4 separate regions of the Homo sapiens genome follow, and regions 2, 3 and 4 are each linked to region 1. The links come from fine-mapping of genetic effects on gene expression. A gene starts in region 1. Each other region holds a variant in brackets. All regions are shown on one strand. Distances are from middle to middle.

Evidence for each region.
Region 2: its variant is fine-mapped to the expression of RABEP1 in subcutaneous fat (GTEx, PIP above 0.99). The same link has a PIP of 0.9 or more in monocytes after LPS.
Region 3: its variant is fine-mapped to the expression of RABEP1 in minor salivary gland (GTEx, PIP 0.97).
Region 4: its variant is fine-mapped to the expression of RABEP1 in whole blood (TOPMed, PIP above 0.99). The same link has a PIP of 0.9 or more in blood mononuclear cells.

The regions. Positions count from the first base shown.
Region 1 is chr17:5,278,022-5,286,164 of GRCh38, forward strand. RABEP1 (rabaptin, RAB GTPase binding effector protein 1) reads left to right here and starts at 4,263. Exons shown (of 18, transcript NM_004703.6): 1 at 4,263-4,499. The coding sequence starts at 4,466. RefSeq lists a silencer at 3,983-4,702 and an enhancer at 6,550-7,068.
Region 2 is chr17:5,354,010-5,362,009 of GRCh38, forward strand. RABEP1 (rabaptin, RAB GTPase binding effector protein 1) reads left to right here. Exons shown (of 18, transcript NM_004703.6): 8 at 350-481; 9 at 7,199-7,666. It overlaps LOC105371505 (a long non-coding RNA gene), which reads right to left. Exons shown (of 2, transcript XR_934178.3): 1 at 7,676-8,000; 2 at 6,598-7,075. Among named protein-coding and RNA genes, the nearest start is that of NUP88, 62 kb to the right of the region's middle. RefSeq lists an enhancer at 7,873-8,000. The variant C/T (reference allele first, on the strand shown) is at 4,949.
Region 3 is chr17:6,080,918-6,089,060 of GRCh38, forward strand. WSCD1 (WSC domain containing 1) reads left to right here. Exons shown (of 9, transcript NM_015253.2): 2 at 1-168; 3 at 7,073-7,187. Among named protein-coding and RNA genes, the nearest start is that of WSCD1, 15 kb to the left of the region's middle. RefSeq lists an enhancer at 5,989-6,680. The variant T/C (reference allele first, on the strand shown) is at 3,113.
Region 4 is chr17:5,250,490-5,258,620 of GRCh38, forward strand. No RefSeq gene overlaps it. Among named protein-coding and RNA genes, the nearest start is that of SCIMP, 20 kb to the left of the region's middle. RefSeq lists an enhancer at 4,029-4,534. The variant T/C (reference allele first, on the strand shown) is at 4,930.

The sequences.
Region 1 (8,143 bases):
TTCAGACGGAGTCTCGCTCTGTTGCCCGGGCTGGAGTGCAGTGGCGCGATCTCCGCTTACTGCAAGCTCCACCTCCTGGGTTCACGCCGTTCTCCTGCCTCAGCCTCCCAAGTAGGTGCGACTACAGGCACTCGCCACCACGCCTGGCTAATTTTCTGTATTTTTAGTAGAGACGGTGCTTCACCGTGTTAGCCAGGATGGTCTCCATCTCCTGACCTCGTGATCCGCCCGCCTCGGTCTCCCAAAGTGCTGGGATTACAGGCGTGAGCCACCGCACCTGGCCAGTTTGTTCATTTTCATTGCTGTAGAATATTCCATTGTATGTTAAAACTTTTTTTTTTTTGAGGCAGAGTCTCGCTCTGTCGCCCAGGCTGGAGTGCAATGGTGTGATCTTGGCTTACTGCAAGCTCCGCCTCCTGGGTTCACGCCATTCTCCTGCCTCAGCCTCTCCAGTAGCTGGGACTACAGGCACCCGCCATGATGCCCTGTATGTTAAAACTTTTTAAAAATCTAGTCCACTGTTGATGAACATATGAGTCCTTTATTTATCGTATTATGAACTATGCCACTGTGAATATTCGTGTGTCTCCTGGGGCACATGGGCAATGTCATTGGTAACTAATTATTTCATGTGTTTATGTCTTATTCCCAATTTCCTTCAGAACATAAGAATCACATCTTTTATACTTAGTAAAGACTTTGAGCATACATTTGTTTTCCTAAAATATATTCCTAGGGGTGGAACTGCTGGGTCTTAAGGTTTACCTAAAAATACGAAAATGTTCAATATTCTTGATGCTCCTATCTGATTTCAAAATGGCTTTTTAACTACTTCCCTCACATGGAGAGCCCTAGGTGTCCAAATCATATGCCTGACCATTTCTGAGGGACCTTGACTTGAGGGCCTGGCTTCAAGCCTCATTATCAATGGCAACAAATTTGCCACTCTCTCACTGGAAGGAGCCCCTTCTATTTTATTTTTATTTATTTCTTTTTTTTGAGAGGGAGTCTTGCTCTGTCGCCCAGGCTGGAGTGCAGTGGTGCAATTTTGGCTCACTGCAACCTCTGGACCTCCTGGGTTCAAGCAATTCTGCCTCAGCCTCCCGATTGTAAGTGCCCAACACCACGCCTGGCTAATTTTTGTATTTTAGTAGAGACAGGGTTTCACCATGTTGGTCAGGCTGGTCTTGAACTTCTGACCTCAAATGATCTGCCCGCCTCGGCCTCCCAAAGTGCTGGGATTACAGGCGTGAGCCACCACACCTGGCCGCATCTGCTATCTTTATGGCTTATGCCTCGTGTTAGTCATCACAACAATACAGAGGATGCACTGGGCTGCCCTATCCTGGCCAAAGGTCTTCCTGGTAAGCATGGATTTGCTCATCCAGGAAAATCATTTATGGGGGGTTGGGCAGGGTGTTGGGGAGACCCTGCTTGCTCTCTCAAATGCACACCAGCCATTTGGGAGACATTAACTGCTCAAAAAACTCGAGTCTGTATTTTGGCTCTCCTCTAACGATGGCAGGACCTGGGGCAAAAGTACAAATAGATACCTAAATTATTTAAAATTACAAACCAGTTTGGACGTGGTGGCTCACACCTGTAATCCCAGCACTTTGGGAGGCCGAGGTGGGTAGATCACTTGAGGTCAGGAGTTCAAGACCAGCCGGGCTAACATGGTGAAACCCTGTCTCTACTAAAATTACAAGAGTTAACTGGGCGTGGTGACACACGCCTATAATCCTAGCTACTCAGGAGGCTGAGGCAGGAGAATCACTGGAATCCGGGAGGTGGAGGTTGCAGTGAGCTGAGATGGTGCCACTGCCCTCCAGCCTGGGCAATAGAGTGAGAGACTCCGTCTCCAAAAATTAAATAAATAATAAAATAAAATAAAATTACAAACTACTCCAATTAACCGCTAACCTTAATACAGTCTATCCTTCTACTTGGACAAATCTACCTGTTTAAGACCTGGAAGACCAGGTTTAAATTTAGAATTCCTGGGCTCCTGGGAGTTATGCCCATGAATGAGGTGGCGAAAGCAGCACAGGCCCTGGCCCAACTATTGTCTCTTGGCTCACTTGCCTTCTTTTCTCACCTCTGTCCTGCACCATGAGGGATCTGTGGACATAGGAGCTCAAACACCCAAGTGTCGTGTCACCCCCTTAAAATAAAACAAAGCTGCCCTTTAGCCTCCCTTTTTTTCAGTGAGAAATAATCATTTTAATAAAAGTATACCTTATTTAAAACAAATGATTTAAAGAAAGTAGAAACTGATTCTAATTAGTGGATTTTCTGATTATTATTATTATTATTTGAGATGGAGTCTCGATCTGTCGCCCAGGCTGGCAGTGGTGCGATCTTGGCTCACTGCAACCTCCGCCTTCTGGGTTCAAGCAATTCTCTGCCTCAGCCTCCCGAGTAGCTGGGAGTACAGGCGCCTGCCACCACACCCGACTAATTTTTTGTATTTTTAGTAGAGATGGGGTTTCACCATCTTGGAGAGGCTGATCTTGAACTCCTGACCTCGTGATCCACCTGCCTCAGTCTCCCAAAGTGCTGGGATTACAGGCGTGAGCCACTGTGCCCGGCCTATTATTATTTTTTTATTATACTTTAAATTCTTGGATACATGTGCTAAACGTGCAGGTTTGTTACATAGGTATACATGTGCCATGGTGGTTTGCTGCATCTATCAACCCGTCATCTAGGTTTTAAGCCCCGCATGCATTAGGTATTTGTCCTAATGCTCTCCCTCCCCTTCCCCCCACCCCCCACAGGCCCCGGTGTGTGATGTTCCCCTCCCTGTGTCCATGTGTTCTCATTATTCAATTCCCACTTATGAGTGAGAACATGAGGTGTTTGGTTTTCTTTTCCTGTGTTAGTTTGCTGAGAATGATGGTTTCCAGCTTCATGCATGTCCCTGCAAAGGACATGAACTCATTCTTTATGCTTTCACTTTAGCTTCTTTTAGGGATGTCTAGACTCTGCCATAGAGAGAATGGATCTGGGAAAGAGACCACAGCTTCAGCCATCTGGAAAGGGAATTCTGGGGCCACAAGTATTCAGAACTTGGTCCTGAAGTGCCAAACCCTGTGGACTCCCTCATCCTGGGGTGGGATTGCTGGGTCTTAAAATGTACATAATTCCTGATGCTCCTCTCTGATTTCAAAATAGCTTTTTAGGCCGGGCGCGGTGGCTCACGCCTGTAATCCCAGCACTTTGGGAGGCTGAGGCAGGCGGATCACGAGGTCAAGGGTTTGAGACCAGCCTGACCAACATAGTGAAACCCCGTCTCTACTAAAAATACAAAAATTAGCCGGGTGTGGTGGCGTGCGCCTGTTGTCCCAGCTAGTCGGGAGGCTGAGGCAGGAGAATTGCTTGAACCCGGGAGGCAGAGGTTGCAGTGAGCCGAGATCGCACCATGGCACTCCAGCCTGGGTGTCAGAGTGAGACTCTATCTCCAAAAAAAAAAAAAAAGCTTTTTAAACTACCTCCTTGGCATGGGGCACTCCAGGTGTCGAAATCAGACGGGGAGTGGTGATTAGAGGGGAGTTCCTAAAGTATAGGGCCCAGGGGCCCAAGTATAAGGGCCACACTTTGTGTATATGATTTCTCCTTTCCTGCCATGAGTGCAGGGTCTGTACCTGGCTGTATCTCCAGCATCTATCACGACTGAAAACCCAAACGTATTTGCTGAATGGATAGTATACTGGCCTCTGCACCAGAAGACCTGGGGTCCAGGCCCAGTACTGTCGGAAACAGTTCTTCATACTTTATTACCTCGTTTAAACTTTTCTTAGCCATTATATTGATAAAAATTCCAAGAGGTGAAGTGACTCTCCCAAGGTCGCAAAGCTAGAAGAGGTAGAGGCTGGAACTGCACCCCGCCATCGGTCCTCCTCTCTTACTCATTTTTTTTTTTCCCCTCACTGTGCTGGGGTGGAGAACCGGGACCGGCACCTTCGAGAGGCCAGGCCTCTGCTGCAGCCCCTCTTCTCCAGCTCCGCTCGGCACTCAGCCTCCCCGCGCCGCTGGGTCAGGCGCCCAGCTCCGCCGAAACCCTCCCCTCCCGCCGCGCTCCCTCCGCGCTCCCTCCGCGCTCCCTCCGCGCTCCCTCCGCGCTCCCTCCGCGCTCCCTCCGCGCTCCCTCCGCGCTCCCTCCGCGCTCCCTCCGCGCTCCCGAGGCCCCGCCCCTCCCCTCGGGCCAACGTCACGTGCCGCCCCATCCCCCTGCGCCTGCGCACTGCTTATTTCCCGCTGTCAGGATGAGGAGGCGGAGGTCGGCGGTCGGGTCCGTCTCTGCCCGCGGCTGTGGCGGCGCCGGCGGATCCAGCCTTAGCGGTTTCTCTCTGGGCGGCGGCGGCGGCGGCTCGGTTGACGCCTCCTCCGCCAGCTGAGCCCGCGGGAGCCCAGGACGCCGCTTCCCCGCCCATCCCCGCTCCCCGAGGCCGGCCGCCTGGTCATGGCGCAGCCGGGCCCGGCTTCCCAGCCTGACGGTGAGGCGCCCACCATGGCAGGCGCGGCGGGCGCGGCCTGCCCGGCGTCGGCGTCGCGGGAGGATTTCGGGGCGGGCAGGCGGCGGCAAGGGCGCGCGCAGGCCCCGGGGGTGACCCCGCCGGGCGGAGGCGGGGGCGCGCGGGCTGCGGCGCGCGAGGGCGGCGCGGGCGCCCCGGCTGCCGTCGCTGGGGAGGGGGCGGGAGGCGCGGGTGCAGCGCTTGCGGGAGGGCAGAGGGAAGGGCGTGGGGAGGCTGCTGGGTAGCGTGGGGTAGTGTGGGGAGGGAGCGGTTCTGGGTAGCGGGGGACCGGCACGTGGGTTCTGCCCGTGGGGGAGGATGGAAATCGGGAACATGTGCTATATTCGTTAAAGAAAAAAAATCTTAGCTTAGGTAGTGTACCCTCCCTGCCGCCCCAATCCTTGCTATAGAACTCTTTGCACCCAGTTATGTGACCTGAAAGTAGTTGTGTACAGTAACTGGATTTAGTAGCATTCCCTGAATGGCAGTGTGGCTTAATGGTTAAGTGTTGGGGCCTGGGAGTCTAGAGGACCTGTATTCTTAACCAGCAAGCTCTGGGCTCATTTCTTAGCCTCGTTGAGCCTCAGTATTCTCACCCACGAATTAACCAAGAGGTTAATTCATGCCTTTATATTTTATCTATAAAAATAGCAACACGAATGTGTATATACAATAATAGTATTATGGAGGTATTAGGAATAATGAGAATAGTGTTTGAGAATGCTGAGGCCTACTTGCACTACTTGAAGATATTTGCTTGTGGAACTAAAAAAAAAAAAGTGAAGTCGAAGAAATGTGTCATTTATATTCTTGGAAGGAAAAAAGGGCCCCATCCTAAATAATCAAAGTTGGTTGTCAGAGCCCTTCGTGACCTTCTGGGAAATTGGACTAAGCTGTGCTTCACAGATTGACTACATGGTTCCAGGTTTTACCACCTAGAATAGATGTTTGGAAATAGTGTGCTTGGGCTTTTCCAAGGTCCCACTGTATCTAGTTGTGAAAGTACTTTCTGGTGTATTTCTATAATCAGCGTGTGTGCTTAGCATCTTTAAGTGTGAGTAGAGTAGAATGTTGGGAAAAGGGGCTTGGTACGGAGTAGGTACTTTAAAACTTGGCTTTCCTTGGGGTTGTCTCAAAATAACCTTTCGTGAAACCCTTACTTTTTATTTTTGCCTTTGGGGAACTTGAAACCATGTTATCAGATTTTAAGGTTCTGGCTGCTCTCTGGGAAATGTGCTTCAGAGCCTGTTAGCCTGTAGTTTTGGGTGTTGTTGCTTGCCTAAGGGGAGATGTCCAGTAAGCATTTAGACTTTTATAAGAACCTGCTTTGCTGTTTCTGTTCCAGGAGAAGGGAAGGGAAGCATTTTTGGTGGGCTGTCAGAGAGAGGAAACTGGGATGTCTTCAGGCTGCATTTTAATGATCACCTTTTGCATTTGGTGTCAGGCAAGAAAACTTTGTTCTTCCACAATCCCACTTTGTTACTGCACACAGAGGCAAGATACAGAGAGCTTGTGGTTCTGAACAGGAGTGGTAGGTATGCATAGCTGGCTGCTGCCTTCTCTTGAGTTGCATGGAAAGAAACGTCTAGGGCAGCTCAGGTGACATGACCGTCTGGAATCAAAATTCCCTGCCTCTTTGAAGATATGAAATGGTCTTCCTTGTAAATAGGCAGAAGTGACTAAGCACTTGAACGAGGCTAGGGAAAACTAGCTTTAGGAAATCTTGTATTCTTGGTATTTTAGTTCAGGTTTCTTTCCTATTTCTCAAATCTTGTGACTCTAGGATGAGATTTAGTTTGCATAGATTGCAATTTTTATTTTAAATTAATGTAGGTAGCCATGGCTACTTTTTACAGTAGGAGAGAGATAATTTGGTACGTTTGAGTGCCTTGTGTCAGTGCCTTAGAAGTTCATCTTGGGGATTTTAATTTTTTTTTTTTTCTTTGAGACAGTATCTCACTCTGTTGCCCAGGCTGGAGAGCAGTGGCGCGATCTTGGCTCACTGCAGCCTCGACCTCCTGGGGTCAAAGCAATCCTGCTACCTCAGCCTCCCAAGTAGCTGTGACTACAGGTGCATGCCACTATTCCCAGCTAATTTTTGTATTTTTGTAGATACGGCGTTTTGCCATGTTGCCTAGGCTGGTCCCAAACTCCTGAACTCAAGGGATCCACCTGCCTACACTTCCCAAAGTGCTAGGATTGTAGGTGTGAGCCCGTGAGTCCGGCTTTTGGGGATTTAATTTGTGTCTTTAGCTGAACTCATGTAGACCATTTTAGCTTTAGGCACGTTTGAATTTCCTAGTCCTGCTGATTAAAAAAAAAAAAAATCGCCAGAATTCTTTTGTGTCAAACTGGTGGTGAAAGATAACTAACTGCTTAGTCTTTGACTTTATCTTGTTTTATCCTGTTTCAGAAGCGATTGTCTTTGATGACTTTTTAAAAAAAAAAAAATATTGTCTGTTTTTCATGGCCATATGGTAGATTAGGAAAATCGATTTGTGTGTAAATCGAAGGGATGAAATGTAATCATTTTATTCATTGTAATTATTTTGTAAGTTAAAAAAAGTTTTGGGTTTTTGATACTGCATCTTAGTTTACTTATTTGGAATACAGGTAATTTTAATAGTTAAAGAAATTTCAGTTGATCTGTTTTCCCTTGAGAATTTAAAAATGAAAATTTTCTAATTTTAGTATTTCTTTTAATCTAAGTTCAACTATATCTTTGAAGCATTTGCTCTGGTTTTACTTCACTTTTTTTCTTTTTTTTTTTTTTCTTTTGTAGAGAGGGTCTCATTGTGTTGCCCAGTCTGGTCTTGAACCCCTGGGCTCAAGTGATTCTCCCATCTTGGCCTCTCAGTGTTGGGATTACAGGCATGAGCAACTGCACCCAGCCTACTTCATTATTTTTTATTCTTGCCATGTTGGCCAGGCTGGATTCCTGATTGTTTCCTGTTAGTTACACAGACATGCTACCTTTTACCCCTGAAGGACATGCTTTACATACATAAGTCTGCAACTTCCCTATCTCACTTAATAAATGTTAGCTATCATATTATATACTCATGGTTATATGGCCATGTAATGTTCTGCAAACACTATAGGCATTATCTTAGGAAATCTTCATAGCAATGGTACTATTGAATATTACTGCTTCTATTTTCTTGATGAGGAAACTGAAGCACACAGAAGTTAAAGAAACGTGCCTGTGTTATACAGCTATTAAGTGGGGGAGCAGGATTCAAATCCATGCCATCTGGCTTATGTACTAGATCATGGACTACTTCCAGGTCAGTGTTGTAGGCCTTCTTCATTCTTCTTAAAGACGATCTTATCATATGCATGTACCAGGCATGATTTATGGCCTATTTCCCTATTGTGGGGCAAGTAGATTGTTTTCAAATTTTAATTATTTTATAAGCAGTGTTGTAATGGATGTCCTTGTGCATATTTTTTAAGGTACTCTTTTACTTCTGTAAGACTAGTGAATTAAATAAAGGGCATGAGTTCCGAGTGGTTTAAATTTTAATACCTGTTGCTAGCTTACTCTCCAAGGCATCAATTTACATACTTGCCAACGATATATGGCAGGTGGATTTCCCCTGTAATCCTACAAGCTCTGGATGATG
Region 2 (8,000 bases), 76 kb after region 1:
TTCTACAGTAATCACAAGGAATGTTCTGTGTAAATTTTTTTTTTCAAGGATCATTTGAAGAGGCGGTTTTGCTTTCTTTTATTTTGCCTTACTTTATACAGTATACTTTTCTTGGAAGCTGCTTCCTGATTTCTTCTTTATACCAGTGTTCTTAGTTTGTGCTTATAATATTAAAATATTTTGTAATGGCCAGAGGCCCTTAGATGGGATTACAAAACAAAGAAGCGTAAGTATCCAGTTTTCTCTTATCATAACGCTCTGTTCTTTATTTGTTTTGAATGGTTAAAGAACTGTGTCACTTATTAAGTAGGTTACTTGGGTCATATATATGTTTTTTTCTTCCTTTTAGGAGGATGATGAACAACAAAGACTCAATAAGAGAAAGGATCACAAAAAAGCAGATGTTGAGGAAGAAATAAAAATACCAGTAGTGTGTGCTTTAACTCAAGAAGAATCTTCAGCCCAGTTATCAAATGAAGAGGTATAGTGAGTCTATAATTAAAGTCATTAAATACACAATGTCAACAATTTTAGCTTACTCATACATCAGTTAATTACATTGTTCATATGAGAAGTGAGAAGTGCATAGCTACGAGGTGAAAGTTAGATAAAAATGACAGTATTTTCAGTTGTTTTTATGGCATTATAGGTAGCACTATTTGAAACATGTTGCAGCTTCATTCGCTGTCTGAAATAGATGTTCTTTTTTCCAGTATTTCCAAAATTTAATACATTAGAATAAACCTTTAAATAATGTCTGCAAAATCTTTTTTGATGTGAATAGTACATGTTGCTAATACTTGTCTTTTTTGTTTAAAAAGAGATTATCTAAAGCGCTGAAATGCTTAACTCCCTGTAGCATATATGAGAGTATTAACCAGTATTAGGTTTTCATCCCTGACGGCCATGGGTGAGGTTTGGCAGATAACACCACAGGGTAAAATGTTTCAGGTACTAGGAATGGGTAGAGTAGAGAGACCTGGAAGTGTTAGGTGTTCTGTGGCCTTGTCACCTCTCACCTACAGTGTGGCAAGGGCCTCCTCATTGGGTTTCCTGCCTCAACCTGTCCCATTCCACTGCGTCCTCAGCATTACTGTCAAATTCATTTTCTTAAGTGCAGCTGCAGTCAGGCCACTCCCCTACTCAAAAACTACCATTGACTCCCATTACCTATATAATTAAGCACACATTCCTCACTCTGACAATTAAGGCCCTTCATCATCTGGATTACATTTTAGCCATGTTGGTCATCATCTTGGGCTGTATTCCCACTTGGTCTGTTGGTTCCTTCATTTGGAGTACTTTCCTCCCATTGCCTTTCTGAGTATTGAAATCCTTCTACTCATCTTTCAAAGCTCATCTTGTTATCAGTGAAGGAACTGCTTCTCTTATTGCCTTTAGAATAAAAACTAAGATCCCCCAAGATCCCTAGCATGGCATACAAGGGCATTCACAGTTGAATGGCCCTTCCAGCCTCACTTACTGCTCTCCACCTCTCTGTAGCCAGACCTGTGCACTTACTGTTCATGCTCATGTGGCCTGTCCCTGCGGCTTAGAATCACACTCACTTCCCTGCGGCACCTCCTTTCCTGGCCTGGTGAATGAATTGCACTTAAATTGGATACAGGTCTTGTCTTTACTTTCAGGGGTATCATGTTTCTATTTACTTTGCAGATTTACTTTGAGCCATACATAATCTACATCCTGGTGGTTATATATATGCCCATGCTTACAGATTGTTTGATGTTTAAGAAAAACTTAAAAAAAATTTTAGTAGACACTAAAAAGTGCTGTATATTGAAGTTGTTTTGTTCATTCTTTGTTCTGGGACATAGACTGGGAACCACTTGGTCTAATTCTGCTGTGCATTTTAAAAATATTTAGACTCCCAAGAGAATGTCTCAAGTTTTGGGTACAGCCAATGATTACATAGTGTTTTCATCATGCAGTAATCTATCCAGGAATGTTTGAAAAGTGGGAAAACAGGAAAGGGACATTTGTTGTGATTTACAGAGAAGTATTTTTATTTTTGATTCTCTCTTAACAGATCCGTAGACTTTCAGAGCTGGTGTTTTGCAGTTTGAATGTTGAATATAATTGTTTTGTATTGAGAATAATGACACAACTCTTGGTTTAGAGTTAATCTGAAGCCTAGCTAACATGGTGTGAAACCCTATCTCTACTAAAAATACACAAATTAGCTGGGCGAGGTGGTGGATCCCTGTAATCCCAGCTACTCAGGTGACTGAGGCATGAGAATTGTTTGAACCCGGGAGGTGGAGGTTGCAATGAGCTGAGATTTTGCTACTGCACTCCAGCCTGGATGACAGTGAGATCCTGTCTCACACACACAAAAGTTAATCTGAGATGCTTTGGAGAGTTGGATTTATGGCTAAAGATATTTGAAATTTGTAGACCTCACATTTTCTTTAACCTGATGCTTATAATATGCTTTTCTCTCTACAAAATGTTCATTATGGAAAATTTGGGAAGTATAGAAAACACCATTCAAAATAAAAATAACTGATAGATCATCCTACCCAGAGGTAACAACTAATATTTTGGTATGTATCTCTTTCTTCCTTTCCTTATTTTCTTTTCCAGAGATAATATATATGTTAACATATGTTAACATATTTCTTTTTTTTTTTTTTTTAATTTGAGACAGGGTCTCACTCTCACCCAGGCTGGAGTGCAGTGGTGCAATCTTGGCTCACTGCAGCCTTGACCTCCCGGGCTCAAGCGGTCCTTCTGCCTCATCCTCCTGAGTAGCTGAGACTACAGGCATCCGCCATCGTGCCCAGCTAATTTTTTGTAGAGACGGTGTTTCAACATGTTGCCCCGGCTGGAACACATGTGTTTCTATTTGCACTTTTTTTTTTAAATTTGAGACAGGGTCTCACTTTCACCCAGGCTGGAGTGCAGTGGCGTGATCTCAGCTCATTGCAACCTCTGCCTCCCAGGTTCAAGCGATTCTCCTGCCTCAGCCTCCTGAGTAGCTGGGATTACAGGCATGAGCCACCACGCCAGGCTAATTTTTGTATTTTTAGTAGAGATGGGGTTTCACCATGTTGGCCAGGCTGGTCTTGAACTCCTGATCTCGTGATCCACCCACCTCAGCCTCCCAAAGTGCTGGGATTGCAGGCTTGAGCCACCATGCCTGGCTCTATTTGCACTTTTAAAACATAATCTAGATTATAACTACATAGTGTTTTGTGCAAATTTTTTCCCCAACTTAAATCTACTCTAAGGTTTTGGCACATCATTAAATGTTTTTCCCTGAAATGATATTTAGTGGCTGACAGAATTTCAGCGTGTCAATGTACCATAATTCTTTTAACCAATTCCCTACTAATTGATTTGTGACTTTTTTTGTTTTTTTGAGACAGTCTTGCTGTCTCACCCTTGCTGGAGTGCTATGGCGTGATCTTGGCTCACTGCAGCCTCCACCTCTTGGGTTCAAGCGATTCTCGTGCCTCAGCCTCCCGAGTAGCTGGGACTACAGGTGCACACCACCACGCCCAGCTATTTTTGTATTTTTAGTACAGACAAGTCTTCACTATGTTGGCTAGGCTGGTCTCGAACTCCTGGCCTCAAGTGATTTGCCCACCTCGGCCTCCCAAAGTGCTGGGATTACAGGTGTGAGCCACCGTTTCCAGCTTCTGCCTGGTTTTTAATTCATAATGGTGACTGAGTGATGACATAGGGAGTTCAATGCCCCTGAAAAAAGTTTTGTGTTACTCACAGTTCTCCTGGAAGCAGAGGTACAGCACACCTTGCATGGCCACAGCAGGGAAGCACCAGAGGTGGTCAGGAGGCAGGAGCAGGAGCGAGAGAAAAGCATGGGCCATAGCTATTATTGTGGTTTCTTTGGGAAAAGCAAAGTGGAGCAGAGCAGAGGGTTTAGGACTGGCTGGTAATTAATTCCAGCAGCCTTTGGGGTATAGGGTCTGTTCTTAGCTGTCTGGAACTGGCCCTGGGTTCATTTAGGGCAGGGGAAATACTGGCTCGGTGTGTGACTTAGGTAAGGGAGGTGGTTGGGATATGGGTTTGGGATTGAATGGTTTGTGTGTGAAAGGCATGTTTACAGTTAGGTGAGTTGTTTATTATCTCTAGAAATTAGCTAGTCCTGGGAAGCAGTTTCTTCACAGCCAGCAAGGCCTCCAGTAAATCAAAACATTATGAAATACAGAAAATGAAAAGCGTGATTAACACACTGATAGTCAAGTTGGTTCCATTTTTTACTACTATACAATTTTTCGTTATAAGTAATGTCATAATGTTATATATAATTTTTCCTTGTACAAAAATCATTATGGATGCATCTGATTTTATTTTATTTTATTTTTTAGTGTGAGTTCTTAGGAAAAGAACTGCCTGGCCGGGCATGGTGGCTCACAAGTGTAATCGCAGCACTTTTGGAGGCTGAGACAGGCGGATCATTCGAGGCCAGGAGTTTGAGACCAGCCTGGCCAACATGGCGGAACTCATCCCTACTAAAAATACAAAAATTAGTCGTGCATGGTGTCTGGCGCCTGTCGTCCCAGCTACTCACTGTGGCTGAGGCATGAGAATCCCTCGAGCTCAGGAGACGGAGGCTGCAATGGGCTGAGAATGCGCCACTGCACTCCAGCCTGAGTGACAGAGCGAGACTGTCTCCAGGAAAAAAAAAAAAAGAACTGCTGAATTCAAGGATGTAAACATTTTTAAGATATTATTGCCAATGTAGTAGTCTGATGTGGGGTCTTTTGTTTTGTGTTTTTTGAGACAGGGTCTCGTTCTTGCCACCCAGGCTGGCTAGAGTACAGTGGCACCATCACAGCTCACTACAGCCCCGATCTCCTGGGCTCAAGCAATCCTCCTGCCTCAGCCTCCTGAGTAGCTGAGACTACAGGCGTGTGGTACCATGCCTGGCTAATTTTTAAATTTTTTTGTAGAAAGGAGTTCT[C/T]TCTATGTTGCCCAGGCTGGTCTTGTACTCCTGGGCTCAACCTATCCTCCCACCTCAGCCTCCCAAAGTGTTGGATTTACAGGCGTGAGCTACTGCGCCAGGCCTGTAGTCTGATGTTTTCTTTTTTTTTTTTTGAGACGGAGTCTCGCTCTGTTGCCCAGGCTGGAGTGCAGTGGTGTGATCTCGGCTCACTGCAAGCTCCGCCTCCCGGGTTCACGCCATTCTCCTTCCTCAGCCTCCCAAGTAGCTGGGACTACAGGCACCTGCCACCACGCCTGGCTAATTTTTTGTAATTTTTAATAGAGACGGGGTTTCACCATGCTAGCCAGAATGGTCTTGATCTCCTGACCTTGTGATCTGCCCGCCTCGGCCTCCCAAAGTGCTGGGATTACGGGTGTGAGCCACTGCGCCCAGCCAGTCTGATGTTTTTCAAATGGCCCTCACAACTGTTCTATCCCTAGCCCCTTCCCTCTTCAGTATCACAGCAGCACTGTATATGATACATAGCAGTGGGTGTTAGGGTTATTTGTAAACTAACAGAATGGCTTATCCCAGTTTTTATTAGGATACTTACTTGGGATCTTTGCCATAGTAAGCTTAATATATACGAGATTTGTGTTCTTAGCCATTGCAGTTTCAGATGAGTAACAATCTTTAAAAGGAAAGAAATGGAGGCATTAACTCAAAATTTGTCACCTTTTTATTACACCAAGAATATTTTTAAAACATTAAAAAAAATAGGTTACATGAGCTTGCCAGTAACAACAACTGTATTCCACAGTCTCCTCTGGTTCATTTAAAACAGGGCGTTTAACAACAAAACGTAGAAAGGATATTATCTTAAAACATTGTCATTTAAATGGAATAAATTTAGTTGGAAGGAAAACTTGTTACATTTTTCTTTAAATCATTTTTCTTATTTCCCACTAACTATGCAACTGCTTCATGTAATGGCACTGGTTTGCTTTTTGCCTTCAGGAATGTGCTGTACCACGTTGTTTAAAAATTGAGATAAAATTCATGTAACATAAAATTTAAAGTGTACAATTCAGTGGCATTGCATATATACACAAATGTTTTTAGTTTGAAAACATTTTTATCACTCCCAAAGGAGACCTCATAACCCATTAGAGTCACTCGCCATTTTCCCTTTGCCCTAGCCTCTAGTAACCACTAACTTGCTTTATGGCTCTATGGATTTACTTGTTCTGGACATTTTAAATAGATGGAATTACATAATATGTGACTTTTTGCATCTGCTTTCGCATAGTATACAACATTGAACATGTTGATTACACCTTGCTGGAAAATACCACATTCTTGGGCCGGGTGCGGTGGCTCACGCCTGTAATCCCAGCACTTTGGGAGGCTGAGGTCGGGGGATCACGAGGTCAGGAGAGCGAGACCATCCTGGCCAACATGGTGAAACCCCATCTCTACTAAAAATAGAAAACATTAGCCGGGCGAGGTGGCGGGCACCTGTAGTCCCAGCTACTTGGGAGGCTGAGGCAGGAGAATGGCGTGAGCCCGGGAGGCGGAGCTTGCAGTGAGCGGAGATCGCGCCACTGCACTCCAGCCTGGGCGACAGAGCGAGACTCCGTCTCAGAAAAAAAGAAAATACTACGTTCTCGTCATTTCCTTTCCACTACTCTGGCTTCTCCTTTGCTCATCCCCAAGATGTTAATCTTTCTCAGGGTTCTGCCCTTGGCCCTCTTTGCCTACACACTCATCCTACGTGTTCTGATTTGCTGCTGTGACTTTAATTATCATTATACGATAGTTACTCTCAAGTCTCTATCGAAAGACTTCTGTGTCCCTCTGTCAAGGGAATATCTCTGCTTGGATTCATGATAGGCACCTCGCGCTTGACACACGCCACACTGAATTGCAGGTGACGTTCCTCAACTGTTCGTATTTGGGAGCTCTTTGAGCTACCAGAGCATTCAGCACATAGCTCCAGCCCATCCTTTTATCACAGTATTATAACAGTCTGCTTACTTATCTTTTTTTTTTTTGAAGCCGTATGTATCTCGAGGTCAGGGATTATATCTTGCTCACAGTTGTATCCTGAGGGCCTGGTTTTGTGTCCAGCATGTAGAAATGACACTTAGTGTTTGTTCAATGAGTCTGTGAAGGTAGCACATTAATGATTATCATGTGTAATGAGTGGCGGAATACATTTATTATAGTTTTTGTCTTTAAAAACGCAGAGAATTGTCTAACTTGGCCATATGTATTTTCACATTTCAGGAGCATTTAGACAGCACCCGTGGCTCAGTTCATTCCTTAGATGCAGGCTTGCTGTTGCCATCTGGAGATCCTTTCAGTAAATCGGACAATGACATGTTTAAAGATGGACTCAGGAGAGCACAGTCTACAGACAGCTTGGGAACCTCGGGCTCATTGCAATCCAAAGCTTTAGGCTATAACTACAAAGCAAAATCTGCTGGAAACCTGGACGAGTCAGATTTTGGACCACTGGTAGGAGCAGATTCAGTGTCTGAGAACTTTGATACTGCATCCCTTGGGTCACTCCAGATGCCAAGTGGGTTTATGTTAACCAAAGATCAGGAAAGAGCAATCAAGGCGATGACACCAGAACAAGAAGAGACAGCGTCCCTCCTCTCCAGCGTTACCCAGGGCATGGAGAGTGCCTATGTGTCCCCTAGTGGTTATCGTTTAGTTAGTGAAACAGAATGGAATCTCTTGCAGAAAGAGGTGAGTTACCTTTCTCACGTTTTTCCTCTTGCTCACGCTGAGGCACACTGGGAAGCTCTGGGATTTAGCGTTCATTCAACAGACGGTTCCTGGAGTCAGTGCAGGCACATGTTGCCAGCAAGTGGATATTAACGTGTGTCACCTGACCCTTGTCATAGTCTGCCTTGGGTATTCCAGGTAATTGTGACAGAGAAAGGAGCTAGCTAGTTAATCACAGTGAATGTGAACCTCCCCACCTGAACTCACAGCTCTCAGGTTGGAGCAATCTGCCTGACTAGCATTGCGGAATTTAAGTTAGAGCAACCTGGATTTGGTTTGCTTTGCAGTTTTCTAT
Region 3 (8,143 bases), 800 kb after region 1:
TGCTGCAGAGCCCCCTGACCCGGCCCCGGCCCGGCCCCCGCTGGCTCCGGAGCCGCAACTCGGAGCTGCGTCAGTTGCGTCGCCGCTGGTTCCACCACTTCATGAGTGACTCCCAGGGACCGCCCGCCCTGGGCCCCGAGGCTGCCAGGCCCGCCATCCACAGCCGAGGTAGGCGCTCAGCTGCATTTGGGGGAGCTGTTCCCAGGACCCCCCATTCAGGGTCACAGGTTTGGTGTCCCCTTTCTCTCTGCAGGCCTGTGGCCTTCACCGCTAGATGGTTCTTTCCTTCTGCTCTGCAGGACAGGAAGGGGCCTGCGATGCGAAGTCCTTCAGGGTTTTGCTCACTCACCAGCTGGAGTTCCACATGGCTCAAGGCTGAGATGTTGTGAGCAGGTCACTTAGCGCTCCGGCTTTGGATTCAGACAGACATTGGCTGGAATCCTGGCCAACAATTTTTTTTTTTAATCTCAGAGAATCTAGTAGGACAAGTTTCATTGAATATATGAAAATAGGTTGGGCGCAGTGGCTCATGCCTGTAATCCCAGCACTTTGGGAGACCGAGGCGGGCAGATCACTTGAGGTCAGGAGTTCAAGACCAGCCTGGCCAACATGGTGAAAGCCCATCTCTGCTAAAAATACAAAAATTAGCCGGGTGTGGTGGCGCATACCTGTAATCCCAGCTGCTCGAGAGGCTGAGGTACCAGAATCGCTGGAATCTGGGAAGCAGAGGTTGCCGTGAGCAGAGATCGGGCCACTGCACTCCAGCCTGGGAAGGAGACTCTGTCTCAAAAAAAAGAAAAAAAAAAAATTAGACGTGTCACTTAATGTCACCAGGTCTGCCTGAAATGGAGCTAAAGACGCCATTCCTGGGCTATTGTGACAAGCAAATGTGATAACACAGAGGAATGGGTCACAAAGTGGGGTCCCTGACCAGCAGCATCAGCTCCGCCTGGGATCTTGTCACAAGTGCAAATTCTCAGATTCTCCCGGAGTTGCCTAGTCAGGAACTCTGGGGTAGGGGCCAGCAGGCTTTGTATTTAACGCTGTCTCCAGGTGAGTCTGATGCATGCTGAAGCTGAGAACTCCCAGGACAGAGGCCCTGGTATATTATTTGGCACTCTAACTGGCAGCTATTATGACTTAATAAAAGCAGCTAATGCATATGGGATTTCCTATGCACCTGTAAGTCTGCTGTTTACAGGTATTATTATTATATCGCAGTTTTACAGGTAAAGAAACCAAGGCATGGAGAAGTTGAGTCAATTGCCAAGGTTATTCTCTTAGTGTGGGTTCCCTAGAAGCAAACTCTGAAACCAGGATTCACGTGCATCCAGTATATTTGGGATGTGATCCCAGGGAACACTAGTGGGGGCGCGGGAAGTGGGACAGGGAAGGGAAGGCAGCCAGTGAAGGGTGTGTTATCAAGCAGGTTACAAATGGGCAACCAGACTTCATCCGGCTGGAGGCTCAGTACCAGAGCAGAATACACATCTCAAAGGACCCGCTGGAAGTGGCAGGCCTGGGAGACATGGAAGGGACACGGCAGGGTCTACCATCGTCACACTGCTGGATGCCAGCGTGGGGACAGTCTGGCTCCGGGTTGGAGCTGTTTATGCTGAATTATGCAGACTCTCTCTGCAGGGTGCAGCAAATGTGCCTGGTGCTTGGGGAGCTCCCAGTAAGCGTGGAAGTTGTTGTTGGAGGGTGACTGAGCTCAGTCAGCTTCTCAGCATCCCTGTCACCACCTCACTGGGCCCTGCACCCGAAGTCAGAAGAGGAACTGCTCTCTGGACTGTAATAAGTGTGGCCAGAGCACAGTGGACCACCTGGCAGAATATAAAAGGAGATGAGGCAGGAGGAGCACTGGGGCCTGGGTTAGGGAGGGCCACGAGTGCCAGGCCTAGGAGTTTGGCTTTATTTTGATCATGACGAGAAGGTTCTGTGGAAGAGAACGGAGCCCAAGCTGTCCTTACTTTAGGAGACTGACTGGTAGCTCAGTCAAATAAAGACTGGAGGGCTGTGGGTTCATGTCGCTGTGGAAGGAAGTTCCTTCAGAAATCATTCAGGCCATTGCACTTGCTGTAGGATTTCTCAGCAAGGCTCGTGTGTCAGAAGGGAGGGAGGAATGAGGAGCTGATGCTTCAGCTCATTTGACACAGGCATGATTTCTGCAAACTCTCCGCAACACACCAAGAGACTGGGTCTCTGTGCAGGTTTTATCAGTGAAACTTCTTTGGACTAAAGTATACTTGACCGGCAGGAGTCAACGTTACTTGAGAGGAAGCCATGTAAAATGCACACGTTTTAAAAATAGACCTGTGTATTGCCACTTATTGGGCATGTGACCTTGGGCATAGTGGGCTCAGTTCCTCTCTTCATTGCCTTCATTCCACGCTTACTGATGAGCCACCAAATGACTCTTCACGTGTGCACCTCACTGTGCCCTGGAGGAGCTCGGTCTGGTGATAGAGTCAGATATGCACCCAAATTATTTCTACAAAGCACGACCGAGGTCTGCTAGAGGCACGTGCGAAGTGGGCTGTGGACTCAGTGAGAAGTGACCTTTATAACTGACCAGCAGCCTCCCAAAGCGCTAGGATTACAGGCGTGAGCCACCACGCCCAGCCGAGGCAGGCGGATCACCTGAGACTAGGAGTTTGAGACCAGCCTGGCCAACATGGTGAAACCCTGTCTCTACTAAAAATACAAAAATTAGCCAGGCGTGGTGGCACGTGCCTGTAATTCCAGCTACTTGGGAGGCTGAGGCAGGAGAATCGCTTGAACCCAGGAGGCAGAGGTTGCAGTGAGCCGAGATCGCGCCACTGCACTCCAGCCTGGGCGACAGAGCAAGACCCTGTCTCAAAAAATATATATAATAATAATAAAAATAAAAATAGAAGTGACCAGCAGAGGGGAGGGCTCAGCCCTGACTGCAGAGTGTATATGTCTCAGGGAACCAGTGAGCCCCCCTTTACTTTAAGTTACCCCTAATGACTTACAGAAGTGATGGAAGGGGCTCTAGTAAAAGCTAGAGAGATTGTGGCTAGATATAAGCAGGACTGATATCCAAATTTATATACCACTATGGTCTTATCAGTTGTTAAAATAATTA[T/C]AATACTTCCAGGTTGGCTGGTAAATGGTTGCTGCCCTGGGCCGCTGGGGTGCCATCTACACTCTGGCTGCCTCCCCAGTGGCTCCCAGACCTCCCCCTTATCCAGCAAAGAGAGGGTTAATGTGATTCCAGTGCCAAATGGTGGCAATTCTGAATGGTCAGTGCCCTCCATAGGTTGTCAAGTATTGTGAATGTGTGCCAGGACCGAAGGAAGAATTTGCTCTCCTTTGAACAGCAAAACAACCAAGTCTGGGGAGGCTGTGCTCTCATGGTCATCAGAGAATGGGGGAAGGCAGGGTGCTGGCCTGCAATCCCTGTGGGCCCCTTCCTGTCGTGGGGCTCCATGGGCCAAGCACAGCCAGTCCGGCCTCACTGGTGGAGAGTAGCCTGCAGCCCAGCCCTCAGGACAGCTGCTGGGGCCTCAAACAAAGCGGGTGTCTCTTTGTGGCCCGGGCAGCCCGCCATCCTCCTGAAAGGGGATCCTGTAAGGCGCGGAAGCTGCAGGAGGCTCCATCAATCACTGAGCATTTCATTATACCTTGGACAACATCCATAATGGAATAAAATGTCTGTAAGTTTACTAGGGGAAAAATAGTAACTTCTCCATAGCCAGTTTGTTTTTTATTGATAGTAATTTCCAAAGACATTCCAATATCTTCAAAGCCGTCGTTACTAGCCTCACGGTATGTCCATTTTGATGTGCAAATGAACAGATGCAGAGTGACAGACAATAATGCAATGCCTCCATTTCAGCTGAAAGGAATAAATCCGCCTCAGAGTGGGTCCCAGTGTATCCCTCGGAAGTTCTTTCTTTCCTGAACATTCTCGCCTCTGTCGGGGAGTTAGAAAAGCTGTTCATTCTGCGTCCAGATAAAAGAGCTCGCCTCCTCTTTTATCCCCGTCGCACACTGAGACGGGGCCAGCCAGGCCCGGGCTCGCCCTCCACGCCGGTGAGCTCCATCAAATGGCCAGCTGGTCACAGGTGGGCCACTCCCTGTTTCCAGAAGAACCAGAGCCTGACTGCTTGAAACAATTTTTTTTCTCTCTTTTATTAACGTGTTAATTATTCAGCTAATATTTACTGATCCATCCATCACACGTCCCAGGTTAGAGTGTAGGATCAGAATAATAATGGCTGTTATTTATTTGGACATCTGTTATGTGCCAAGCATTGTATTGTATAGACATACATCTGTTATCTCATTTAATTTAATCTTCAAACAGCCTTATGATGTAAGTGCCGCTATCACTGTTTTAATGATGAAGAATTTGAGTTTCTGGGAAGAAAAGTAATTTAAATGTTTTCATTATTAATAACAATATATTAACAGTAAAAACAATCGCTGCTGAGTAATTACTGCATGCCAAGCCTTGTATTAGACATTTTACATGTGTTACCTTATGGAATTTTCACAACTACCTCATGGAATTGGAACCGTATCCCCATTTTATAGATGGGGAAGTTGAGGCTCAGAGAGAGGCAGCTGCACATCCCAGCTTGCACAGCCAGATAGTGGTGGAGCCTATTCCCAAAGGCTGTCTCCATCCACTTCCTCAGAAGCATGTACAGCCTGGGAAGCATGTACAGCCACGTGCAGTCTCAGTCTGGGAAGGTCTTGAGCCCAAGCACCTTGAAAACCTTGTGGTTAATTTCCCATCTACAATGATAAATGTTTAATAATCCTGAGCTTATGCTTTGGCTGTTTAATTGAAAGCTGAAATGGAACTTCTTTGCTGAGCAACCCATCAGAAATTTCTCAAATATTAGTTTTCTTTTACTAAGTAGGCAGGCAGAGGAGAAGGATCCATTCTCACTGACCCGGGTGAAAGCTCTGTGCAGTGGTCCGTGCTGGTGGCGGTGGACCTGAGACTTACAGAAGTAGAGAGATGCACGTGGGACTGGATGTCTGGGCAGTGGAGGGCAGTAGCATGTGCCTGTGGGCGTGGCCATGTGTGCTGATGGGCGTCCCCAGATGAAGGTGACCTCAAGAGGCTCAGAGCCTGGCTGGGAACCAGACCCTTTGGCAAACACTGGAGAAGGTGGCCGTTGTTCCCTCCTCAGCCCTGGGGTTCTGTGGTCCGAGGGTCTCCTGGGTCCCTTGGGTCTTGGTGTGGTGGGGAGTCCTGTCTCCTGCCATCTCGCTTGTTCTCCTCTGCTTTGCCTTAACCTGGGGCCCTGGATATTGCACCTTGGTGCAGTCAGTAAGACCGTCCTGACTTCATATATATATATATATATATATATACTTATGTACTTCATGCATTACTGCTAGTCCCCATGGATAATAAATAGTACTATAATTGTTCATTCATATATATATATTCAGACAGAGTCTTGCTCTGTCACCCAGGCTGGAGTGCAGTGGCATGATCCCAGCTCACTGCAACCTCCACCTCCTAGGTTCAAGTGATTCTCCTGCCTCAGCCTCTGGAGTAGCTGGGATTACAGGTGTGTGCTACCACATCCAGCTAATTTTTGGTATGTATATATTTTTTGTATTTTTAGTAGAGACGGGGTTTCACCATGTTGACCAGGCTGGTCTCGAACTCCTGATCTCAAGTGATCCACCCGCCCCGGCCTCCCAAAGTGCTGGCATTATAGGTGTGAGCCACAGCACCTGGCCCCCTTCTTTGTATTTAGGCTCTCTGCTAAGTACAAAGAAAAGTCACTCCCCGATTCAGGCCCAGAAGTGGATGGTTGGCAGACTTCCTCCCCTAGGCCACTCAGCAGTGGCCCCACTCCCCCAGCCGCTGCCCTGGACCAGGCTCTTGGCAGGAACAGAGACAGTCTCCCTTGCCCTCACGGAGCATCCAGGCCTGTGGACCATCAGGACTTTTCTCCTCACTAAAAAGCCGCTTGGGAGCCACTGGCAGGCTGCTGGGAGGTCCTGGGCATGTTACTTCCCAGAGACAGCCTAATTTCTCTGGAGGCAGTGGTGCGCTCCCCAGGTGACATGAATGAGCGGAACGCGGCCCTTCCTGGGGAGACGTGCAGCGTGTTTATCACAGGTGCCCGATCCAGATCTCGGCGCAGCTATTGTGGGTGTGCGTTCACGGCTTGGGGACTGTGTGACGGCGTGTTTGCAAATTCCCATGCCGCTCCTTCAAAACACTGGTGCGCGTGACATTTACATGCCTACCCGCGTTTGCATCAGGACTGCCATCTCCCAACTTCTCTGTGCATCTCTGGGAGATGTCTCCCTCCCTCGGGGTGGCAGGGCAGGGCTGTGACAGACTCTCACTGGCGCGTGCACGGCTGGCTTCTCACTGCAGCATGAGTGTCCCCAGTATCCCCTTCCAGGGATGTGTGCAGGTGACCAGCCTGGAGAGGCCTCTGCGGTCACTTGGCCCTGTTGTTTCCCACACAGGACACTTGCTCCCATTCTTAACAGACTCTGCGGACACACTCCAGAGATGGGGTCTTACTCCCTCTTGGGACGACAGACTTTATCTTGAAATAGCTTTCCCCGTTTGAAAGATCTTCCTTAAATTTGCTAAAATCAAACTTGCCCTAACTGATTTCTTCTCTCTGGCCCCCAAGGAGGCAACGACCCTGTCTCTCAGGGCATTTGCCAAGGTAGAGAGGCCTCTCTGAGCCCAGGGAGGGCAGGGCTAGAGAGGAGGGGTAGAGTCCATGAGAGGTAATCCAGCCTTCCCAACTTCTGAGTTGGGGTAGTGGAAGAAAGCAGTGGTCAGGCCGACGCCTGGCTCCTGGCAGAGCCGTCAGGGTGGACAGTGGGCCATTAAAAAAGAGAAAATGGGCAGGAAACAAACAAGTGGGAGGTGTCAGATGCTCACTTTGCTCAGCACTGAGTGGGAGGGAGGTAGCCTGCAGCACTCATCTCCCGGGTTTCTCTGAGAGTGGCCTTGGCCAGGAAGGCAGAGGTTCCCCTGGCTTTTCCTAAGGGTGGGCCCATGATTCCTGGGCCTCTGGTATTAGCCATGCTTCCCTTTCTGCAGGCACCTACATTGGATGCTTCAGTGACGATGGCCACGAGAGGACTCTGAAAGGAGCTGTGTTTTATGACTTGAGAAAGATGACTGTCTCCCACTGCCAGGATGCGTGTGCTGAGCGGTGAGTGCTGGGGCCCTGGACTGTTGATTCTAGAGGCAGGAAGGTCCAGGGACAGTTCCAGAATGAGGAGGCATATCAGCTACCAGTTGGCTGTCATAGCATAATTGGAACTCACTGCTCAGATCCCAGTTTTCCAGAAGAAAGGAAGTTTGTTGGCAGATGACCTGGGTGCCGGGAGCTGGGTGCTGGGTGATGGCCTGGGTGCTGAGAGCTGGGTGACCGCCTGGGTGCTGGGAGTTGGGTGATGACCTGGGTGCTGGGAGCTTGGGTGCTGGTGCTGGGTGCAGGGAGATGCGACTTCCAGTCCAGCCATAGCAGGGACTCAGCGTGTGACTTTGATGAGTTCTTTTCCTTCTCTGGGCCTCAGTTTACTTATATATTTTACAATAAGATAAAGGGCTTTAACTGAGATTTCTCTGAGAGGATCTTTCCAGCTCTGGTAGGAAAAGTATTTTCACCTTGTGTCTATAACAAGGTTTACTTTTTCTGATACTTCCAGCTCACCCAGTAGTTGCCAGACACTTGTCATGTGCCAGGGAAATGGTTCCTAATGTCAAGGCCCTCACAACTGACTGTGTGTCTGTGTGTGCTGCACACACACACACACACACATCTGAGAGAGGTGGGTTAAACAGAATCAGACTTCCCTCTTCACTTATTTCTCCCACAGATTTTTTTCACCTTTTTTTTTTTTTTGAGACGGAGTCTCGCTCTGTTGCCCAGGCTGGAGTGCAGTGGCGCGATCTCCACTCACTGCAAGCTCCACCTCCTGGGTTCACGCCATTCGCCTGCCTCAGCCTCCCGAGTAGCTGGGACTACAGGCGCCCACCACCACGCCCGGCTAATTTTTTGTATTTTTAGTAGAGATGGGGTTTCACTGTGTTAGCCAGGATGGTCTCAATCTCCTGACCTCATGATCTGCCCGCCTCAGCCTCCCAAAGTACTGGGATTACAGG
Region 4 (8,131 bases), 28 kb before region 1:
ACAGTGGAATATTATTCAGCCTTAATAAGAGAGGAAGTTCTGGTACATGCGACACCAGGAATGAATCTGGAGGATGCAATACTAAAGTGAAGCAAGCCAGACATAAAAAATAAACATTGTGCCTGAGCGCGGTGGCTCACGCCTGTAATCCCAGCACTCTGGGAGGCCGAAGCAGGCAGATCACTTGAGGTCAGGAGTTTGAGACCAGCCTGGTCAACATGGTGAAACCCCGTCTCTACTAAAAATACAAAAATTAGCTGGGCATGGTGGTGCATGCCTGTAATCCCAGCTACTCAGGAGTCTGAGGCAGGAGAATCACTTGAACCCGGGAGGCAGAAGTTGCAGTGAGCTGAGATCGTGCCACTACACTCCAACCTGGGTGACAGAGCGAGATTCTGTCTTTAAAAAAAAAAAATTGTATGATTCCACTTATATTGAGGTACCTAAAATTGGCAAATTCATACAAAGAGAAAGTAGAATGATGGTTGCCAAGTGCTGGCGGAAGGGGAAAAAAATTCGTTGGTAAAATTGGAATCATATTTCACACATCAAAACTAATTCCAGATTTTAGTTAAAATTTAAATGTAAAAAAATAAAACAAATATTCTTAAATATTCATGTCATGAATAGTAAATATAATTTGTCTTCTTTATGATTTTCTTTTTTCTTTTTCTTTCTTTCTTTTTTTTTTTTTGAGAGAGTTTCGCTCTTGTTGCCTCAGGCTGGAGTGCAATGGCGTGATCTCAGCTGACTGTAACCTCTGCCTCCCGGGTTCAAGTGATTCTCCTGCCTCAGCCTCCTGAGTAGCTGGGATTACAGGCATGCGCCACCGCACCCGGCTAATTTTGTATTTTTAGTAGAGATGGGGTTTCTCCATGTTGGTCAGGCTGGTCTCGAACTCCCGACCTCAGGTGATCCACCCACATCGGCCTCCTAAAGTGCTAAGTGCTAGGATTACAGGTATGATGAGCCATTGCACCTGGCCTTTTTTTTTTTTTTTTTTTTGAGACGGAATCTTGCTGTGTCGCTCAGGCTGGAGTACAGTGGTGCAATCTCTGCCCACTGCAACCTCTGCCTCCCAGGTTCAAGCAATTCTCCTGCCTCTGCCTCCCAAATAGCTTGGATTACAGGAGCCCACCACCATGTCCGACTAATTTTTGTATTTTTGGTAGAGATGGAGTTTTGCCATGTTGGTCAGGTGGTCTCGAATTCCTGGCCTCAAGTAATCTGCCTGCCTCAGCCTCCCAAAGTGCTGGGATTAGAGGTGTGAGCCACTGCACCTGGCCTATGATTTTCTTAATAACATTTTCTTTTCTCTATCTTACTTTACTGTAAGAATACAGTATATAATACATATAACATACAAAATGTGTTAATCGATTGTTAATGTTATTGGTAAGGCTTCTGGTCAACAGCAGGCTATTAGCAGTTAAGCCTACTATTGACCAGAAGCCTTACCAATAACATGTGGGATGTCAACTGCACCAGGGGTTGGCACCCCTAACCCCTGTGTTGTTAAAGGGTCAACTATTCTTATTTTCCAACCTAATGTTGCCCTCCTCAGAGAGGCTTTGATTTTATCTAAAATAACATCCCTCAGTGAAAAATTACCAAGTATTCAATAAATCTGAAAAATACTTTCATGATGAAGAGAAAAATCAATTGCAACAGACCCAGGAATAACAGAGATGATGAGATTAGTGGACAAGAGCATGTTATGTAGAGACATAGAAGATATATAGATACTGATAGACTATGTATGTATATATGAGTGTATCTATCATCTATCTCTTCTAGAGATGAAAAGTACACTGAATGGAATTTGCAGCAGATTACACACTGCAGACCACAGATTAATGAATTTGACACAGTAATAGAAATTATCCGGGCGGGCCGTGGTGGCTCACACCTGTAATCCCAGCACTTTGGGAGGCCGAGGAAGGCGGATCACCTGAGGTCAGGAGTTCGAGACCAGCCTGGCCAACATAGAGAAACCCAGTCTTTACTAAAAATACAAAATTAGCCGGGCGTGGTGGTGCATGCCTGTAATCCCAGTTACTCAGGAGGCTGAGGCAGGAGAATCACTTGAACCTGGGAGGTGGAGGTTGCGGTGAGCCGAGATCACGCCACTGCACTCCAGCCTGGGCAACAAGAGTGAAATTCCTTCTCAAAAAAAAAAAAAGAGAGAAAGAAAAAAGAAAAAGGAAAAGAAAGTAATCTGAAGTGAAATACAGAGAAAGACAACGGCTGAGAATAAATGACAGTGAGTTGGGGGATAACTTCCAGAAGCCTAATGTACGTGTAACTGGAGTTTCCAATAACCGAGACTCCATTTCCAAAAGGAGGAGGTACAGAAAAATATATTCAAAGAAATAAGGGAAAAATTTTTCCTAACTTGATGAGAATGATACACCCGTAGATAATACACCCACCCAGCAAGCTCAATGAACCCAAAGCACAAGAATCATGAAGAACACTAATCAAAGTGCATCTTTTTTTTTTTTTTTTTTTTTGAGACGGAGCCTCGCTCTGTCACCCAAGCTGGAGTGCGGTGGCGCGATCTCGGCTCACTGCAAGCTCCGCCTCCTGGGTTCACGCCATTCTCCTGCCTCAGCCTCCCGAGTAGCTGGGACTACATGTGCCCACCACAATGCCCGGCTAATTTTTTTGTATTTTTTTAGTAGAGACGGGGTTTCACCGTGTTAACCAGGATGGTCTCGATCTCCTGACCTCATGATCCGCCCGCCTCGGCCTCCCAAAGTGCTGGGATTACAGGCGTGAGCCACCACGCCCAGCCCAAGGTGCATCTTAATCGGGCTACTTACAAACAGCAATGAAGAGAAGATATAAAAGCAGCCAGAGAAAAAAACAAATATAAAAATGACAGCAATCTTCTTTTTGGGAGTTAATGTGATGCAGAAGATGCTAAAGCAACATTTAAAAAGTACTAAAAGGGCCGGATGCTGTGGTTCACACCTGTAATTCCAGCACTTTGGGAGGCCAAGTCCGGTGGACCATTTGAGGTCAGAGTTCGAGACCAGCCTGACCAACATGGTGAAATCCGTCTCTACTAAAAATACAAAAATTAGCTAGGTATGGTGGCACGTGCCTGAAATCCCAGCTACTGGGGAGGCTGAGGCAGGAGAATTGCTTGAACCTGGGAGGCGGAGGTTGCAGTGAGCTGAGATCATGCCACTGCACTCCAGCCTGGGTGACAGAGCAAGACTCTGTCAAAAAAAAATTAAGAAAGAAATAAAGAAAATCGAAATAAAGAAAATCAAAATAAATGAAAGTTCTATCATATTCATGGATCGTAAGACTCAATATTGGTAAGATTTCAATTCTCCACAAATTGATCTACAAAATCAACACAGTTCCAATCAAAACCTTGGTGGGCTTTATTTGGTAGAATGAGCTGATTCTAAAATTTATTTAGAAATGCAAAGTACCTAGAATAGCCAAAATAACTTTGAAGCAGAATAAGTTGGAGGACTTACTACTTGATTCAAGAATTCTCATAAAGCTACAGTAAAAAAAACAATGTGTTATTGTTGCAGGTAATACATAAATAGATCAGTGAAACAGAAAAGAAAGTCAAGCAATAGACCTGCACATATATAGTCAGTTGATTTTTTTTTTTTTTTGAGATGGAGTCTCGCTCTGTCACCCAGGCTGGAGTGCAATGGTGCGATCTCAGCTCACTGCAACCTCTGCCCCCTGGGTTCAAGCAATTCTCCTGCCTCAGCCTCCTGAGTAGCTAGGTTTACAGACGCATGCCACCACGCCCGGCTAATTTTTTGCATTTTCAGTAGAGACGGGGTTTCACCATGTTAGCCAGGATGGCCTCGATCTCCTGACCTTGTGATCCACTCGCCTCAGCCTCCCAAAGTGCTGGGATTACAGGCACGAGCCACCTCGCCTGGCCATGGGTGCGGTTTATTTCATGTCAATCATAACTCAATAAAGCTGTCAAAAAAAAAAAAAAGAAAGAAAGGTGAGCCTGGGGTTGGGAAGGGTGAGTGTCAGTCAGAACATGGAGAACTCAGAAGCCAGACGGAGGGGTGTAGACGATCCCCCGGTGATGGGCCAGCACCCGAGCATTTCAGAAAGGAGTGGGTTGTGGGAAGCCAACACTGTCAGCAGGATCTGGAATGGATTGGATGCCAAAGAAAGGAGTGTGGGCAGGAGCTCCTTGCAAGGTACCTACTATAGTGGTGGGGGTGGATTCTAGAAATAAAAGGGGGTCATTTGGAAATGAAGGCGAGGTTAGAAAAAGAAAAGGAGGGAGAAGCAACTGGATCCATGACAATTTAGGGCCCGTCCCCCAGCTCCCAAAGCAGTCATTTGATAAACCAAATCGAGGGCAGAGAAGGCTCTTGGAAGCTTGAAAAAAAATTCCTGCTATGTCTGCTTCTTTCTGGTTTCTACCCTGTGTACAGGGTCCTGTGACCACAGCTCTTTCTGCTGACCGCAGCTGGGTATTCCTGCCTATGGAAAAAAACCACTCACTCGGCCCCGCTCACTCAGCAAAGGGGCCCGTGCTCCTGCTCCTGCACCCAACTGGCCTTCAGGACTGCAAGAGGCCCCAAGGGGCCAGCTCTTCCTGCTGCTCTCAGGGGCACCACCGTTACCCTGCCCAAGCCAAGAACTGTTTTCTCTCTCAAGTCAAGTTCCTCCTTTGGTCTGCCTTCTATCTCTCTAGGTGTAATGTAAGCCATGAATATTCATCCTGCCAAAGAGCCTGGAGTCAGTACCTGACTTTTCTGCTCACTTCCTCTCTACCTTGGTCCTACCTCAGTTTACTCCCAAAATGCTGCACCTACCACTATGCCCTGATTAACAGATGACCCCATCAGGTGACAGGAATCTAAATATAACTGTGGCTGGGTGGCTGACTTCCTGTGTGTGCTCAAGGCAAGAGACTAGGAA[T/C]TGTGCCTTCACCAAGCCTGTAGATCCAGATCCTTGCTGCCTGAGACAGCCCTCAGGGTACAAGCTTGCAATCTGATGACAGAGAGAAGGGGAAGGGAGAAGAGGGGTGTGTGGTAGGAGACAGCTTGGTCCAGAGAAAGATGGGTGCCAAAACCAAGGCCAGAGGCAAAGTTTAGAGCCTTGAAAAATGACTAACATCAGTAAGGGATGGGTTCCTGTAAACTTTATTCTACCTAATGAGGAATCTGCGAGCCTTTGATTGACATCATAATAGTAAACTTGTGCCTGAATACCATGCCCAAGCCAACTGTTTCATTCTTTCTTCCATTTATTTATTCATCCAGCAAATATTCATTGAAACCCTGGTGGCTCCAGACTGACCAACATGGTGAAACCCCGTCTCTACTGAAAATACAAAAATTAGCTGGGTGTGGTGGCGCATGCCTGTAATCCCAGCTACTCAGGAGGCTGAGGCAGGGGAATCGCTTGAACCGGGGAGGTGGAGGTTGCAGTGAGCTGAGATTGTGCCACTGCACCCCAGCCTGGGGGACAGAGCCAGACTCTGTCTCAAAAAAAAAAAAAAAGAAACTCTGGTGGCAGACCTACATCCTGCCTTCAAGGAGTGGGCCCCAAAAAATAAAACTAAAAATTACGAACAATATGAAAAGGGCTCCAAAGGGGTCTTCAGCCCAGATCTGGCAGAGGTTGGGTCAGGGAAGGTTTGTTAGAAAAGATTCCATTCACACTCAAGTCCCAAAGGGTTTGTAGGAATAAGCTGAGAGAGGTGTGCCAGGGTCGGACAGATGGGCTGGGAAGACTCTGAGGGAGCAGTAAGCAGTCTGGATATTGGGCACTTAGGGTGAAATGGCATTGGGGGCCGGGATGAGGTGAGGCAAGGCTGGGCATACTGGCAAGTTCCTAATCTTGAATGCCTTCATTCACTCACTAACTCACCGAACAAATATTGATTGATTGATTGATTGATTGAGACAAAGTCTCACCCTGTTACCCAGGCTGGAGTGCAATGGCGTGATCTCAGCTCACTGCAGCCCCCGCCTCCTGGGATCAAATGATTCTCCTGCCTCAGCCTTCTGAGTAGCTGGGATTACAGGTGCCTGCCACCACGCCTAGCTAATTTTTGCATTTTTAGTAGAGATGGGGTTTCACCATGTTGACCAGGTTGGTCTCGAACTCTTGACCTCACGTGATCTGCCCACCTCGGCCTCCCAAAGTGCTGGGATTACAGGTGTGAGCCACCGCTCCCGGCCTGAACAAATATTTATTAAGGACCTACTCTGGGTCACACATTGTGCTGGGATCAAGAATAGTTTTGGCACTTTGGGAGGCCAAGGCAGGAGGATTGCTTGAGCCTAGGATTTTGAGACCTTGTCTCTATTTTTTTTTTAATTAGCTGAGTGTGGTGGCATGCACCTGTAGTCCCAGCTGCTCAGGAGGCTAAGGTGGGAGGATCACTTGAGCCCAGGAGTTGGAGGCTGCAGTGAACTATGATCAAGTTGCTGCACTCCAGCCTGGGCAACAGAGTGAGACCCTATCTCAAAAAATAAAAAATGTTTTAAAAAATAGTCCTGGATTCATTAAGAAATTTGCAGGCATTGGAATGATCTCCTGAGTTAGGTGATTTTACCACTAACAACAAAACATTTTTGAGCACACGCTGCCAACTATTCCAATTATTTGTTTATAATTACTCATACGACTATTATTATTTTTCTCAGGACAGACTATATACTGAAGGTGAAAGGCATTGTTAGTGATAAGGGATGTACAAATGTATTGCAAACACTCTTTTTGATAATTTCTCTCACTCCCTCTTGCTCATTTGCCAGATTTTTGGCAGATCTGATGAGATCATGTTTTTACCTATAATGTGGCTAACGAAGGACTTCTATTATGAAGAGAAGAAGCATCAGGTCTGCTATTTCCTTTTTTGTGGCTTGTGCTGGCTTTATTAGTTTATATTCAATCTGTCTATCTTTGCAAGCCCCATGTCCAGTTTTTGAGGGTTGGGTTAGTGGTAACGATAATATAATCAGAAAAGCTCAGCCGGGCGCAGTGGCTCACACCTGTAATCCCAGCACTTTGGGAGGCTGAGGCAGGCAGATCACGAGGTCAGGAGATCAAGAGCAGCCTGGCTAACATGGTGAAATCCCATCTCTACTAAAAATACAAAAAAATTAGCCGGGCATGGTGGCATGAGCCTGTAGTCCCAGCTACTCGGGAGGCTGAGGCAGGAGAATCGCTTGAACCCAGGAGGCAGAGGTTGCAGTGAGCCAAGATCGTGCCACTGCACTCCAGCCTGGGTGACAAAGCGAGATTCTGTCTCAAAACAAAACAAAACAAAACGAAAAAAAAAAAAAAAAGGCCAGGTGCAGTGGCTCATGCCTGTAATCCCAGCACTTTGGGAGGCCGAGGCAGGCGGATCACAACGTCGGGAGATCAAGACCATCCTGGCTAACACAGTGAAACCCCGTCTCCACTAAAAATACAGAAATTTAGCCGGGCGTGGTAGCGGGCGCCTGTAGTCCCAGCTACTTGGGAGGCTGAGGCAGGAGAATGGCGTGAACCTGGGAGGCGGAGCTTGCGGTGAGCCGAGATCGCACCACTGCACTCCAGCCTGGGCAACAGAGCAAGACTCTGTCTCAAAGAAGAAAAAAAGCTGTTTAGCTGCATCCATTTAAGCTGCAATGCAACACAGTATGGTAAAGGCAATGACCCCACTTGCTGTTGTGTCCCCTACCTGCAGGCAGGCTTCCCCTCTTCCATCAGACACTGTGCACCTGGCCCTACCCGAGGTGATCTGAGCTACACACCAGGATGTCAGTGCCAAACTGCAAAATATATATCAGCCCGATTTGATGTATGTCAGTCTTGCTACATTTAATACAAAATCACACGCTAGTGGGTCATTTCGTGGATTTCTGGAAATAGAACCCAGGCCCTTGGCAGCTGCTATCTCTTATGTCAGAGGTGGAAAAAGCTCTGATGTAGCCTATAGCAGGTATTGAACATGAGATCCTTGATTTTCCTGCCTAATGGCCTCCAATGGCCTCTCATTGCATCAGAAAAAAATCCACATCCAGGCCAGGCGCGGTGGCTCACGCCTGTAATCCCAGCACTTTGGGAGGCCGAGGCGGGTGGATGACCTGAGATCAAGACCAGCCCAGCTAACATAGTGAAACCC